2 separate regions of the Homo sapiens genome follow, and region 1 is linked to region 2. Evidence: fine-mapped expression QTL. A gene starts in region 2. The other region holds a variant in brackets. All regions are shown on one strand. Distances are from middle to middle.

The links. PIP is the estimated chance that this variant, and not a neighbour inherited with it, causes the effect.
Region 1: its variant is the best candidate, but not a certain one, in a credible set for the expression of C4orf50 in prefrontal cortex (ROSMAP, PIP 0.53).

What each region holds. Positions count from the first base shown.
Region 1 is chr4:5,970,459-5,975,976 of GRCh38, forward strand. C4orf50 (chromosome 4 open reading frame 50) reads right to left here. Exons shown (of 12, transcript NM_001364689.3): 8 at 5,441-5,497; 9 at 3,201-3,383. Among named protein-coding and RNA genes, the nearest start is that of C4orf50, 45 kb to the right of the region's middle. RefSeq lists enhancers at 530-1,340, 2,962-3,523, 3,524-4,084. The variant C/T (reference allele first, on the strand shown) is at 3,200.
Region 2 is chr4:6,015,408-6,020,407 of GRCh38, forward strand. It overlaps C4orf50 (chromosome 4 open reading frame 50), which reads right to left and starts at 3,024. Exons shown (of 12, transcript NM_001364689.3): 1 at 2,738-3,024. The coding sequence starts at 3,024.

The DNA of each region.
Region 1 (5,518 bases), 45 kb before region 2:
AGGAGGAGGGAAGCCAGGGCGGATACAAGGGTGACCCATGGACGCTAGTGACCCGGATGGCACAACAGCAGATGCCAGCACAGACAGCGGTGCTGGGACCCGTGGCCCCCAGCCCAACACCACATGCCTGCAGAAAGGGCACTGGGGCCAAACCGACTCTGAGGCTCAATTTCCACCACGCACCCAAACCAGGACAAGAAAAGAAAATGGAAATACAAAGACTCAGTCACGTGCAGGGAGGGGAGGTGGTCACCGACTGCTGCTTGCATGGGCACCAGGCCACGCCACCTCCTCCTGAAAGGGTAGAGCTTAGTGGCCTCAGCCCAAGGCCCAGCCCCCACCCCCTCAACAGCCCTGGGACATGCTGAGGCTCAGGGTCCCCCGTGGAGCCTAGCAGCAGGATGCTGGGAGGGTGGAGTAAGCAGATCCATGGAGAGCGTGCGAGGGGGAGGGCAGCATGAGTCTTGGCCACCATGACTTGGCTGGATAAATGAAGGCAGCCTGTCCAGTTGGGACCCTAGCCAGCCCACGCCCCCTACCCAAAGGCAGGGGCCAGAGAATGGGAGCGTCTCAGGACACTGTGAGCAACAGGAGCCCAGGGCCCTCCAGGGGTATTCCTGGAAGGTACATCAGCCCTCCACCGCCTGGCTGAAGTTCCCAGGACCTGTCCCTTGCTGCTCTGGCACTTCTCACCTCCAGCCCATCAGAGTCTCCCCAGCCATCCTGGCAGTCCTCCTGGGCTCCTAGCCAGAGCCCAAAGGCCCCCATCGGGAATTCCATCTGTGTCCTCTGAATTGACTGCCCATCAAGCAAGCAGCACTGGACCCGCTTCCTGCCTGGCTACCAGTAGGAGGAGTGGCCAGCGCCACGCCCACCCTGCTGTCCACTAGGAATCAAGATGCAGACACCCTGCCGGGGCACAGGTGCCTGTGGCCTCCCATCAGCCCAGCCTCCCCCGACTCCTCCCCTGGGGACCACACTGCAGCCAGCCTGGAGCTCTCTGAATTTCTGAAACACATCACAATTTTTTTTTTTCACTTTCAAAAGGCCTGGCAGGGACATCCTGGTCCACGGAAGCGTGTCCAGGCCCAGAAGCACATCCTTATAGGAAATGAATGAATCCGTCCGATGACATTATTAAAATAACTTTCCCTGCTCTCGTTCTGGGCTCTCAAGTGACAGATGAAGAAATGACTGAAAAAATTTGATTTTCCAGATAACTCAACTATAGGGAGAGAATACGCTGACAATTTTTCATCCATTCATCAGATACTTCAACCTGTGTAATAGTTCTCTTTCTCATAGGATATTTAAAAATTAATAGTCCAGTGTATACATCATTCTCTGTAAGTTTGGTCATTGTAAGTCAGCCGATCCAACCCCAGTGAACATTTCAATTCTAGTTCCAGGGCCTGTGAGAGTGAGGAGCAGCCCTTGGAAGGTGGGCTGCTGCTATGATGTCCCCACAGCAGCCAGCCAGCCGGCCTTCCAGGGTGACACCTGCTGCATTTGCAATTTGATACTTTCACAACCTGGAACTCTGCTTTCGATTTTTTTTTTTTTTTTTGACACAGTCTTGCTCTGTCACCAGGCTGGAGTGCAGTGGTGTGATCTCGGCTCACTGCAACCTCCACTTCCCGGGTTCAAGAGATTCTCCTGCCTCAGCCTCCTGAGTAGCTGGGACTACAGACACATGCCACCACGCCTAGCTAATTTTTGTATTTTTAGTAGAGACGGGGTTTCACCATGTTGGCCAGCATGGTCTCGATCTCTTGACCTTGTGATCTGTCCGCCCCGGCCTCCCAAAGTGCTGGGATTACAGGCACGAGCCACCGCGCCCGGCCTGCTTTCAATTTTATCTCACTTAACCCCCAGATATCAGGCCCCTAGTGGATCCCAAGGACTATGCAGGCACTTGGACAAAATTCTGCTCTCTTTTCTCACCCTTATTCTAGTTCTGAAGGAGTCTTGTACCCCTTGGGCAAAGAGAAGAGCAACAGACTGGGAGTCTGGGGCTCTGGATTCAAGTTCTGCCTATGAATTGAGTCAAAAAATGGCCCTGAACATGCCTCTTGGCCTCCAAGCCTCCATCTCTGCTGTGCAATGATTTGGACCAGAGGGGACCTCTCAAGGCTGTGAGGAAAAGGAAGGGTCAGAGGAGGTTGGCCTTGCAGAGACCAGGCTGGGCAGAGCTGCAGAGAGAGACTCAGACCTGGTGCCAAGGGGCTGAGAGCAAGCCCCACAGGCAGAGCCTGGAGGGACCATGGAAAACAGCCCCGGCTGTGTTTACCGTGGGAGCTGGTCTCACCCGCGCACATAAGGAGCGGAGCTAGTCTGGCGGGGGCGTTGCTGGCTTGTCCCCAGGAACGGGGCTGCATGTATATGTGTGGGCAGGCACGGCTGGGCACCCGTGGGTGCTGACTGTAGTCAGGAGAGCTGGCATTTGTCCCTGTGTGCACTGCCTGTGTGACCCGGAGCACATCTCCTAACCTCTCTGGCCTCAGCTTCCTCTTCTGTTGACCACTGGGAGAGGAGATTCTCATTCATTTGGTTCATTATTTCATTCATTCAACCAACATTCTTCCAGGTTTGTGGCAGATTCTCAGAGCCAGGCACTGGGAAGACAAAGATGGCTATGGAGCGGCTCTGGGCCCATCGGAGATGGGCCCACAAACTCCTGCAACAGCCAGGAGAGCTCCCTGCTCATGCCCCGTCACGCGGGGCCACGTGCAATGGAGCACAGAGGAAGCTGTGGCTAACTCTCTGGTCTGCGGGGCTCAGAGCAGGCTGCCTGGGCAAGGTCACACCTCTACCTTGAAGGATGGACAGGAGGTCATGGGGTGACCAAAGCAGCCTGCTAGAGGAAGTGGCCAGTGCACAGGTCCCGGCACAAAAGACCCATCCTGTGACACACACCCAATGAAGCTTGTATGACGCTGAATTACAATCACTGTTTACGTCTGTGCCTTGCACCATTTCCTGAGCACCATAAAGGGTAAGGATTGCCAGATGCATCTTCCCATGCCCACCCAGGGCATGGGCATGGGCACAGAGGAAAAGCCAGGGGGTGTCTTCTTGGGTAGTGTCCGCGGTGGGAGGGAGGGAGGAAAGGAGGGGCTGCTCCAGTCAGGCAGGGGCATGCAAGGGACGCGCCCACACTCCCATAGGAAGCACAGACAGGGCCATCTCTGGGACTCTA[C/T]CTCTGGGACTCCCGGAGCCAGGAAGGTGGCCGTGTACTCAGCCAGTGCCACGTCGTTGAGCATGTTCTGCGCCAGCTCGGAGAGCAGGAGGTTCCCCAGCCCATGTCTGTGCAGCTCCTGCAGCAGGTGGGTGATCAGGCGGTTCCTCTCCCGGCACTTCCGGACGAGGGAAGCTATCTTGGCCTGAAAGGGAGGGAGGCCATGGATGCAGAGCTCCCACCAGGGCTGCATGGCTGAGCTGGAGGGCTGGGGGCCGGAGGGTCAGCTGAGGCCCCTACTCACCATCCCCAGCCCTGCCTCAGCTCAGCGGAGCAGCCTCCTCCCTGCGAAGCCTCCCTGCCCCCAGAAGCCAGGCTGCTTTCGGAGCAGACGGCCACACACCCCCAGGGGCTCCGCACTGCCCTTTCCATGGGGTCTAGGCTCAAGGCAGCAGGGGTCAAGAGCGTGGATTTGGGCCCCACCACGGACCAGCTCTGTGAGCAAGCTCCCCTCTGCACCTCGACTTGCCCATCTGTACAATGGGCTTTGTCATGGACACCAGGATAAAAGGAGACGGCGCAGGCAGGCACCTACCGAGTGTCATGTTTCTATCCTTATCTCACATTTCGATAGCACTTTATAAGGGATTATGGCCTCCATTTAAAGAAATGCTCCACAGCAAATGATGGTGATGAGAGCGGTGGGGAGGGAAGCCTCACACTGCCGGAGCCTCACCGTCCGCTCTGCACCTTTCCAGCTACCACGTCTGCAGGGGCGCGGCAGGAATTATGACGATTTTTATTTTACGGGCGCCAACTCGAGGCTCAGACAGACACGGAAATGTGGGGTGGAAAATAACTTTAGGAACTGTCTGGCTCATGTTTCTGATTTGACGGCTGACGACACTGAGGCCCCAGAGGGAGGATGACTCTGCAGGTCAGCGGGAGTCCAGGGCATAACCAGGTTCTGCTGATGCCCAGCCCAGGGCACCTCCCTCTCCACTCTGCCCTGAGGCCAGAGAGAAAGAGCAGAGCCCCCAGCTTCTCCTCAGATCCAGGCCCATGTTCAAGATGAAATGTGTTACCTTGACCAAATTCTGTGTCCTGCTAGCAAAGAATATATTAAACCCCATGGGTGAGTAATGACATTTCTGGGAATTGATCTTAAACATAAATGTCTAGATACGTGGAGAAAACCTTTCTGAGAAAACCTGTACATTGGCCGGGTACGGTGGCTCATGCCTGTAATCCCAGCACTTTGGGAGGCCAAGAGGGGGTGGATCACCTGAGGTCAGGAGTTCGAGACCACCCTGGCCAACATGGTGAAACCCTGTCTCTACTAAAAATACAAAAATTAGCCAAGTGTGGTGGCACATGCCTGTAATCCCAGCTACTTGGGAGGCTGAGACAGGAGAATCACTTGAACCTGGGAGGCAGAGGTTGCAGTGAGCCAAAATCGTACCATTGCACTCCAGCCTGGGCGACAGAGTGACACTCCATCTCAAAAAAAAAAAAAAAAAAAAAAAAAAAAAAAAAAAAAAACTACATCACAGTGTTTGCACACAATTAATGATACAAAAGAGAGAGTGATAGAAAGGAAGGGGCTTGAGCACAGAGCGCAGGGGTGGTGATTTTATGGACCAAGGCCTCTCGTGCTTCACCCCAGCATGAAAAGTGCAGCCTCAAAGGCTGGGACCCACCTCCTAGGTCACCCCATCGAGTGGGAACAGCAGGAGGCAAACGTATACGCATCGTAGGCTCTCAAACACATGGGAAACGTACTGGAGGAAAAGACATGGAAATGCCATGTGCAAGCAGGGGCTGCTGCTTTCTGTCTCCTTCATTCTTCTTTGCGGTTTTTTTGTTTTGTTTTGTTTTGTTTTGTTTTGTTTTGAGTCAGGGTCTCACTCTGTTGCCCAAGCTGGAGAGCAGTGACGTGATCTCGGCTCACTGCAGCCTTGACCTCCTGGGTTCAAGCAATCTTCCCCCCTCAGCCCTCCCAAGTAACTGGGACTATAGACGCATGCCATCACGCCTGTATGGGATTTGGCCATGTTGCCCAGGCCGGTCTCAAACTCCTGAGCTCAAGCAATCCACCCGCCTCAGCCTCCCAAAGTGCTGGGATTACAGGTGTGAGCCACCGTGCCTGGCCCTACCCAGACTTTTATACAATAGAGGTGGATTACATGTCTAACAGGAAAACTACTAAACTCTCTTTTGTTTTGAAAGAGGCATTTCATGTTGATTTTATGAACATATTACCTTCAGGGGAGTCACTGCCAACTTTGCTTCATGTTGCTTTTTCTGAAGTTCTTCAAGCTGAAATAAAAGCGACATTTT
Region 2 (5,000 bases):
CCTGCCGACCCCCCGAGCTTGGGCTTTTGGGATCCAGAAATGTGAGAAAATAAGTTTTTGTTAAGTCACCCAGGTCTGCAAATAATGCCATTTCATTATAATGTTGATGAGAAAAAAAAAGATTCCCAGCCAGGGCCACTGTCTATGTGGAGTTTGCCCATTCTCCCCATGTCTGTGTGGGCTTTCTCGGGGTACCCTGGTCTCCTCCTGCAGCTGTAACACGTCACCACAAGCTTGGCGGCCAGAAGTCGGAATCAGTCTTCCTGAGCTAGTCGAGCTGTCAGTGGAGCCAAGCCCTCTCCGAGGCTGAAGGGGAAATCCAATTCCTGGTCTTCTCCAGGTCTAGAGCTGCATTCCTGGGCTCCTGGCCCTGCCTTCATCTTTGGAGCCAGCTGCATGCAATCCCACACTGGCGGCCACACTGCCATCCCTAGACTCAACCCTCTCTGTCTCCCTCTCGCAAGGATACTTGTGATTGGTCTTAGAGACCAGCCGGCGAATCTGGGTCCATATCCCCATGTCACCATCCTTGACATGTCGACATAGTCCCAGCCTGCGTGAGTGTGCGCGTGGGTGTGAGTGTCCTGTTCAGGCCTTGCACCCTGAGCTGCCGGGAGAGGCCTCAGCCACCTGTGACCCTGAACTGGAACAATTGGGTAAATAATCATCTTACTTGTGTTTTTTTGAGTCTTTCTTAAATCTAAATTTGTTTGAGCCTTTCACATTTATTTCAATGTTTAACATTAGAAGTGTTTGGGGTCTTTATCTCAAAGTTTGGTGATGTTTTTGTGACCTGAAATATGCTGTAGGAACTTAACTCTTATTTGTATCAATTAGCCTATGGTCAAATTAGTTTTGTGGCCAGGTGTGGTGGCTCACGTCTATAATCCCAACACTTTGGGAGGCCAAGGCAGGCAGATCGCTTGAGGTCAGACGTTCGAGACCTGCATGGCCAACATGGTGAAACACTGTCTCTACTAAAAATACAAAAACTAGCTAGGCGTGGTGATGGGCGCCTATAGTCCCAGCTACTCGGGAGGCTGAGGCAGGAGAATCGCTTAAACCCAGGAGGTGGGGTTTGCAGTGAGCCAAGATTATGTCACTTCACTCCAGCCTGGGTGACAGAGTAAGACTCCATCTCAAAACAAAGCAAAATAAAAAACAAAAACAAATTGGTTTTGTTGTAGGTTGCTTCACTTAGTCACAGTTTCCAAGGGCCTATAGACAACGTTCAGTGAGGACTTACTGTGCTTTGTCATGGCAACCCAGGCAAACTAACATAACTTTGTATATGACTCTCGGAGGGTAAGTGCGTTGCAGAATGAATGAAAGAATGGGCAATCACATAGAGTAACAGAAGAATTTTTCTGATTTGTGAATTTCTTCATGCATAAAACTTTACCAAAAGGAAGAAAAGTAAATCACATGTGCATACACGTTCAATGGTCTGCCTTTACTAAATCAAAGGCAAGTACAAGAAAATGGGGAAGTCCCGCAAAAATCCAAGGCACGTGGCTGCTGGGATATGAGTAACGTGTCAGAATCAATCCCCGCTGTCACTGCATTGTGCTTCCATGCTGGGTTTCGCTGATCTATATACAAGGCCCAACCTCGTTCTGCCAGTCTGGGTGTCAAGACATCGTCAGGAAAGAAGATGGGCTTTAGAGAAAGACCTGGATTCAAACGCCCCACCTTGAGGCCAGGTCAGCTCCATCAGGCAAACAGTGCCCACAGCAGGAAGTTCTACAGAGAGAAACGAATGCGGAGAACCTATTTCAAAGATGACAGCAGAGTCCAAAGGCCAGACAGAGACAGGCAGCCTGGATTAGCAACTGCCGGAAGCCACTTCTGCCCCTGGGGCTGGACAGCCACACAGGGAAGAGACGATGTTACCAGGGCAGGGCAGAGCAGCCAGGCCACCCAGCGGGAGCTGGGACCGCAGAGGAAGCCGAGAGCACATCTGAGTTACAGCCACAGTGGGAGATGTCACTGTGGGAACAAGAGTGACTTTATTTTAAACGCTAATCCAGCAGGTGACTCTTGACTAACCCTGAGTCCACGAATGCCTCCAAGATGTGGAGTTGATATAGTTCTGTTTACGTAGAAACACCTATTCATTGTGAGTTTCCTCCAAAACAACCCTTGTCATTGCAGAAACCATAGGCTGTGATGCCTGTAGCCACCTATGCAAGCCTTCCAGAGCACACATGCTTTTTCCCCAGGATATAAGCCCTGGGTTGGGGATGGAAGGTTTGCTGTGTGGACATCTACTTGTCTGGCGGCTGCCTAAAACCATGCTTCTGTCTGCCAGTTCCCCTAAAAAAATCACCCCAAACCGACCAACTGGATTTGTCTGCCTCTGTCCTTGGTTTCTCAGTTCCTTCTACACTTCCCTGTCACTTTGAACATAGGGCCCTTTCATGGAACAGTCACCCAGAGAAGAAGAGAGGGAGAACACCTGGCTTCTCCCTGCCTCCCTCCGTTTCAGGGCCTCCCATTGGCTGCACCTAAATGGAAGCCTTTGAGCAGAGGAGCCCGGGCAGCCTCATCTGCAGGTACAGAGCAGAAGAAGGAGGGCGGGAGGAGCAGAAGGCAAGTGACTGCGTGGGCAGGTTACGTGTCTTTGGTGAGCCAGTTTCCCCAGCTGTGTGGTGTGATTCAACACACCATGGTGACACACTCTGATGGCCCCGCGGTTTGTGAAATACACACAGAGAGATCAAAATGGCATCGCTACCTGCTTCTCAGCCCGGACTCCGATGTCACGTACTTGTCCTCTGCTGCTGACAGCTTCTGCTCGGAGGACTCCAGCTGCCTCCTGAGCGCACCCATATCCATGTCTGGGCGGCCAGCTGCTTCTTCCTGAAGACATTCCCGCTCCTCAGCACTATCTTCCATGTCCTGGAATATCCAGGATGTGTCAATCTTCACATCAACGTTCATTATGTCGAACCCCTCACTGCTGGGGGCTCTGATGACGTAGCTGAAACTCTCCTCAGTCCGTCCCTTGGCTGTTGGCTCCATCTCAGAAATATTTCATGGGGCAAGACTTAATAATAAAATTAAGTGAGTTTGCAACATTGACTTCCCGGAGATTTCAAGGTGGTGTTTGTGACTTCAGATTGTTCAGGAAAATATCCTTTGAGAAGGGCAAGAACAGGTGGATTATTCATGAGTGGGTGACTTGGGTTTCATCTGCACAAGCGTCATACAATATGAATGAAAGCCTCTCGTTTTACAAGTCAGCATGCCAGAACTCACGCAAAGCAAGAAAAAGTTGCAGAAAAATCACTTGAGATGAAATGCCTAGTGATGAACACAGAGAGGAAAAATAAGACCTCCAGGTAAGGCCATCAGATGTTACAGACTCCCAGTAGTCAATGAAGCTTATCTTTTTACCACATAATGAATAAGGTTCCACACCTCCTCTTTGAGCACAGCACATATTTTTCAAGGACCTAGAGTTTGCTAGGGGAAGAGGATGGGAAATTTATGCTGCCCTGGGTGCCGTCTGCATCCAGGGCAGGGGCCTCTCATGCCTTACCTAGTCCAATTCTCCCGGTGACCTTATGAGGTGGGCGTTAACATGACCATTATACAGATGGTCAGACGGAGGCTCTGGAAGGTGAAGGAGCTTATCCGGGTCCCACAGGTGGGATGGGAAGTAGCAGAATCAGGATTCAAATATGGATCTGACTCCCAAACTGGAGTGTGTGTGTTCTGACACAGGAGATACAGTAATAGGTGAGCAACAAGACCCCAGAAAAGGAGCAAACGCATCCTTTGGGCACCCTGAGGAGGGGGAGCGAGCATGAGGCTGAAGAGATCGTAGGAGGAATGGGGAATTACAGCAGAGAGAGGTGGGGAGGAGACTCCCCCAGGTGGGGAGCATCCTCAGGCCACAGACCCGCACAGACAGGCAGGACAAGTGAAGGGAACAGGAGGACCAGACAAAGCTGGCCCCGTGGACACACAGAAGGAGGAAGTGAGGAGTGAGGACAGAGGAGGCTGGGTGCCATCTTCTCTCAGGCACTCAAGGACTCCGGCGTTTCTGTGGGCCCCTGGGAGAAGGGAGGTGCCTGGTCAAATGTCATTTTGAGGATCGAGCACTCTGGGGTTTGCAGGAGCGAGATGGAGGCAGCTGCACCTGTAGGAGGAGGCAGCGCCACAGGCCAGGCCTGGTGCAAAGAGGCGTCAGGACCAAGACAAATAGAAAATGAGAGGCTTCCGTCTCCCTGTTAAAAATAAGAGACGTCCTCCCTCCCTTTTCTTAAAGCATCTACTTTAGAAAATGTGTAAGTTCTTTCTTTGTCTCTTTGAAATATGTGTAAATCCTTTTTACAGCGAAATAAGCCTTTTCCAGCATTACGACTCAGGAATGTTTCCCTGAAGGACCTGGGCACCGCCTCTTTGAGATGTAAATTCGAAGGAAAACAGCGCCCCTAGTGTTCAGTGGGAGGAAGGAGCCGAATTGGGCAGGCGCCTGGCTCCGAGATGCAAAACCTGTCACAGTAAGTGACAGAAGGGTGGAACCCAGGTGCAGGAGAAGCTTTTTTTTCCTTTGTATAAAACAAATTAATGAACACAGAGGGTTGCCCTCGTTGTCAGGTGAGTTTAGGATGAACCATGTGAAACAATGACGCTATCGAGTCCTTTTCCGCAGGGATGAGAGAGGATGTGTGCATGGATTGTGCCTGCCTGGCCATATAAAAGGGTGAAACTTCTTACTGTCTTTGCAATCTCTCAGTGGGTTACCTGTAATGCACCTCATATCTTGGTTTAATGCTTATTCAATAATAAACCTTTTTTAAATTTTCTTTGTGATGAGGTTTTCTGTGCTGGGAGAAGCTTTTGTCTTTAATCATATTTTCCCAACAGTGGCCAATGTCTTGTTGGCCACAAGGGGTTTCCGTGGACCTGGGGCAGTTGGAGGCGGGGGATGGGGGTGCAGTGGAGCCACTCAGATCCCAGGCGCTGGGGCCAGGCTGCCTGGGTTCCAG